Linked DNA regions of Homo sapiens: region 1 is linked to region 2. Evidence: fine-mapped expression QTL. Tissue or cell type: whole blood. Region 2 holds a variant in brackets; the other region holds the start of a gene. All regions are shown on one strand. Distances are between the middles of the regions.

Region 1 (2,500 bases), 160 kb before region 2:
CGAGAAATGCTGAGCAAGGATGGGCTAAAAAGTGCACAGGTTATTACACCTGTCAGGACTCCTGTGGAAGATGTGTGGGACATAAAAAGAGAAAACCTACTGGACGGAACAGACCAGAAGACAGACAAGAGATGTGAGATGGAAACAAATGGTCCAGACACACTGAACGGGCTGCAAGGTGTGGGACTGGAAGCGTCACCCTAGAAGAGGCACTCACTGGAGTCCCCCAAGATGACCACGAACTTGTTGTGTAGCAGCTGCTGGACTTCCGAGGCCTGGAAGTGGACCATGTCGCTTCGCAGCGGGCGGCGCGGCTCCTCGCTCGACAGACAGAAGACCATGCCGCCACCAGCAACGACAGGCTGCAGGGAGAGGCCACTAAGCAGCGCGATGGTGGGGACTCTGGGCAGGTCAGCCTCAGGGCTAGCCCCTCCGGGGCTGCTCAATGCTAAAGGGAGGAGGTGACGGCAGCAGAGCCATGGTGGCGCCAGCCTTGGTCACACTTGGTACCAGAGGCAGGGGGTCGTCCAGCCAGCAGGCCTCCAGGGCACTGGGGAGCTTCCCGCGCGGCGCCGCCCTGCGCCTCGCCACGTGCCCGCCGCCGTCCCGCGCATGCGCGCACCCGCTCGCGCCAATTACCAAGTCCCGGGGCTCCGCGGTGTTCACCCGCGACCCGGGTATGCCTGCGCACCGCGCGCCTGGCCCGCAGCGGGCTCCTAGCCAAGCCTCATGTTCCCGCGCCCCAGTCGGCCAGTCGGTTCTGCAAAGCTCCCGCCCCGCAGAGACCGTGGGTCCAGGTTAGCCGTCGGTGCACAGCCCAGCGCCCAGCGCTCTCCATGCGAGCGTCGCTGTGGCCCCGACGGCGCCTCAGGCCTCGGCGCCTCGGGCTGCGACGCTCACAGCTTCCACTTCCGTTCACCCATGTCCCGCCCTGAGCGACCCCCAGTGCCCGAAGGGAAAGCAAGGCGATGGAGGTGGCCGCCACAGGGCGCAGGAGCCAGGGCTGGGCCCACTTGGCGGGCGCGAAGCCCAGGTACGGGCTGGGGTCTCGGGGCGGCAGCCAAGTGAGGCTGCCCACAGTGGTGATGGCCGCGGCGGCGGCCTCGCCACGTGACCCGGACGGGCGGAAGCGGAAGTGCCGGCCTGGAGCCCGCTCTAGGTGGGTGTCCCCTCGGTGCTTCCCAGCTGCCGTCTGCACCAGCCATGGACTGCTACACGGCGAACTGGAACCCACTCGGGGACTCTGCCTTTTACCGGTGAGCTGCCCCGCCCTCCCGCCCACGGCCTGGCTTACCCTGCTCGCCCGCCGGCTGGAGTCTCCCGGCGGCGTTCGCCCCTGTCACTACTGGCGCTGGGGTCCGCCCCGCGCCGGCTCTCCCCGAGCGTCTGCCACTTAGCGCACAGCCGCCTTTGGGCAGGGAGCCGGGCCTTCCCCTGCTCCAGAAAAGGAAACTGAGGCAAGCACAGTGGTCACCCCGAAGCCCAGGTCTGTTAGCCTCCGGAAAGATGCTCAGATCTCGCTGAGGGAGGCAGCTCGCGGGTGACAGCGAGTGCCCAGTCTCCTGCCGGAAAGTGCTGCTGAAGTCAGACCACAGGGGCGCTCCGAGGGGGGCGGGATCGCACGGCGGGCGGGGTAACAGTGCTGACCAAGGCTGGGAAAAGGGGGCGAGTCGTCCGTGAATCCCGGAACAGCGGAAGTGGGAACCCCTGGGTTAGGGCAGCCCGCCCATGGGAGTTGTAGAGTCCTAAACCACGGATTTTTCTAAAGTGTAAACCCGTTACATCGTTACCCAGATTAGGATTTTCCCATAGCTTCCCTAATAGGAAAAACTACGAACTTCTCGTGGAACGTCTATCTGTAAGGCAGCCCGTTTGTCTCTCCAACCTCATCTACCGCTCTCCTACCCAAATCTTGCGTTCCAGCTGCGCAGAATTACAAGGCCCTAACCAGTCTGCAGTTTCTGTGGATACTGCCATTTCTCTCTTTATCTCACTGAAGAATTTTGCGCATCCTTCAGGACTTAGTAGTTCAAGGGTTCTTTCTGGAACTGTGCCTGATTCTCCCCCAATAGAATCCTGTGGGCCTCACTGGGCCCAGTGCTAGGGTCTTTTAGGTATGGTCTATTTGTATATTTAGGCGACATTTGTATAGGTTTCTTCTGCTAAACCAGGCTCCTTCAGGGCTGAAAGCATTTTTTTTTTTTTTGACAGAGTCTTCCTCTGTTGCCCAGGCTGGAGTGCAGGGGCACTCGGCTCACTGCAACCTCCGCCTCCCGGGTTCAAGGGATTCTCCTGCCTCAGCCTCCCGAGTGGCTGAGACTGCAGGCCCCTGTCACCACGCCCGGCTAATTTTTGTATTTTTTGCTAGAGGTGAGGTTTCACCATGGTGGCCAGGCTGGTCTTGAACTTCTGACCTTAAGCAATCTATCCACCTTGGCCTCCCAAAGTACTGGGATTACAGGCGTGAACCACTGAGCCCGGCCAAAAGCATGTTTCTTGC
Region 2 (2,757 bases):
CAAATATCTGTCAAATAGAATGGCCAGATGATTTCTTATATCCATTATGATATTCTATACTATCATTAAAATAAATGTGTTCACATAGATCTCTAAGTTATATTGTTATGTGAGAAAACATATGTGGGATAATTTCATTTTTGTTTTCAAAAATATGTATATCTGTGTGTGTTTGGGTATGTTAATGCTTTTTTTTTTAAGTCTGAAAGACTACAAATTGTCAACAGTGGCTGCCTACAAGGGGGCTGGAAGAGAGGAGAGACATAATAGGGAACTTTGTTTTCTACTAAATTATTTGACTTAAAACAAGCATATTCTTTTTATAATATTTTTAAAGCAGATTTTTTTGAATATGGGAAATAAATCTAATGGACTTAGTTTGCTTCGATGGATATATAACATCTAGAATAAAGAAGTTCCTATGCCTAGTTTGAACTGTGTCAGGAGTCTTGTGGTCAGGTCTCTATAAAAAGGGATATCACCAAATGGGATGTTGTTCTGGAGAGAAACTGGACCATGGGGGTGAATAACTAAAGGAACAACACTCATAGGACATGACAGCTGTTTTCAGATATGTGACAGGCTAAAAGGAGACTGTAGCATTTCCGTGAATGCCCACCTGATTAGAAGTTCTAGGCTGTGGCTTTCATCCTAATTACAAGCTGGAGCTTTTTTGTTCACCAGCATTTGTCTTTCTAGGAATCATTGAATTTATTCAAAAGAAATACTTTGAAAAACCACTCAGAAGCCCCCATTTTCAGGGAAAATTGAGGTCTTTAAGGCATTATCAAGGTTTAAAAAGAAACAAAAAGATAAAATTGTGTTAGCTTCTGGCTGGGTGCAGTTGTTCATGCCTGTAATCTAGCACTTTGGGAAGCCAATGCGGGAAGATTGAGGCCAGGAGTTTAAGACCAGCCTAGGCAATGTAGCAAGACCTTATCTCTACAAAACAATTTTTTTTAATTAGCCAGGCGTGATGGCACATGCCTGTAGTTCTAGCTACTCAGGGGGCTGAGGTGGGAGAATCATTTGAGCCCAACACTTGGAGGCTACAGTGTGAGCTATAGTGCTAACTTTATAGAGCTGCAGGAGCTACAGTGAGCTACAGTGATCACCGCACTGCCCTCCAGCCTCCTGGCTACCAGAGTGAGACTCTGTCTCAAAAAAAAAAAAAAAAAAAGGCTTAGCTCCTGAGAGGAATGGGATAGGAGAGAAAGAAAAGAGGGAAAGAGGTGAAGCCAGTGAAATAGTCAGAATCTGTGCGATGTGAGATGTGACCTTCCTCAGGACCTCACATCTCTTAGATTGCCAGGTGAAGAAGGCATGTGTGTGTCACTAGTGATGGGACTGAGTGTGGCATCTGAGTTGAGATGGGTGAAATCGCCTCTACATTGATGAGTTGTCCCAAAATAAGTGAATCAGAGTCACAGTCCTGTGGGAATTAGCAGGAACTGTGACAAGGGCTTTGGAATTCCACT[G/C]TCCAGAGAGTTGGGAGTTTGCGTTTTGCAAGGGGCAGAAAAGATGCCCGCTGACATCTGGGTTTTACATTGCTTAGTACGAGGGAAATGCAAAAGAAATTGTGTGTCTGGGTGTTGGGTCGTTTTAAACAGAACTGTTCCAAGACCTACCTTGGAAGGTAGTAAATTTCCCATCACTCTAGTGTTCAGTCACTGGTGACTATTGGGTGAGAGTATTGAAAGGAGATTCAGACTTAAAAGTGAATGAGATTCAGACCTGTACTGGAGATCTAGGCAAGAAAAGAAAGGTATAAGGATTGCAAAGGAAGGGACAAAATATAAATTTTTCACAGACCAAATACTGTCTTCAGAAAAACCCACAGATTCATCAGACATATTATAGAATTAATATGACATATTATATTATAGAATTAATAAATATGACATATTTATAATTTATTATATATGACATATTTATAATTAATAAATATGACATTATAGAATTAATATGACATATTATAGAATTAATATTCATCAGACATATTATGGAATTAGCAAGGTTGCTAGATACAGAAGCAGCATAAAAATTTAATGCATTTCTATACATAGGCCACAAACAGAAAACCTAATAATACCTTTTAAAAGGTGCCAATTACAATAGCATCCAAATGTAAAGTACCTAGGAATGGATTTAACAATTTAGAGAAAATTATTAAAATGTTTGAAGACATTAAAGGAAAATAGCTTAAATTAGTGAAGAGATAGGATCAATGGATTAGGAGGCTCAATTTTGTAAAGATGTCAATTCTCCCCCAAGATATATAGATTCAATGCAATTCCAATAAAAATCCCAACAGGTTTTTTTGTGGAACTTGACAAGCTGATTCTAAAATTTATATGGAGGAGAAAAGATTCAAGAATAGCCAAGACATTCCTGAAGAAGAAGAACAAGGTGAGGAGACCTGCCTTACCAGATATAAAGAGATTATAAAATTTTAGTAATTAAGACAGTTTTGTATTGGCACTGGGATAGACAGATCGACCAGTGGAATGAAATAAAGAGCCCAGAAGCAGATCCATTTGTAAGTGGAAACCTATTTATGACAGAAATGCTCTTGCAGTTTGGGTGGGGAAAAGATGGTCTTCACAATAAATAGTGCCTGGGACCATTGGTAACCCTGTGGGAATAAATGAAATTGAATGCTTGTCACATATCAAACACAAAAACCAATTCCAGTTGCTGTAAACACTGAAATTTAAAGGACAAAAATGATAAAATGTAGAGATCATAATGTAGTAA

What was found. PIP is the estimated chance that this variant, and not a neighbour inherited with it, causes the effect.
Region 1: it holds the start of VPS16, and the variant in region 2 is fine-mapped to the expression of VPS16 in whole blood (INTERVAL, PIP above 0.99). The same link has a PIP of 0.9 or more in unexposed skin.

The regions. Positions count from the first base shown.
Region 1 is chr20:2,839,572-2,842,071 of GRCh38, forward strand. It overlaps VPS16 (VPS16 core subunit of CORVET and HOPS complexes), which reads left to right and starts at 1,174. Exons shown (of 24, transcript NM_022575.4): 1 at 1,174-1,256. The coding sequence starts at 1,204. It overlaps PCED1A (PC-esterase domain containing 1A), which reads right to left and starts at 1,084. Exons shown (of 8, transcript NM_022760.6): 1 at 640-1,084; 2 at 218-362. The coding sequence starts at 341. RefSeq lists enhancers at 386-917, 1,451-1,982.
Region 2 is chr20:2,997,017-2,999,773 of GRCh38, forward strand. All of the region lies in intron 9 of PTPRA (protein tyrosine phosphatase receptor type A), which reads left to right. Among named protein-coding and RNA genes, the nearest start is that of GNRH2, 45 kb to the right of the region's middle. The variant G/C (reference allele first, on the strand shown) is at 1,479.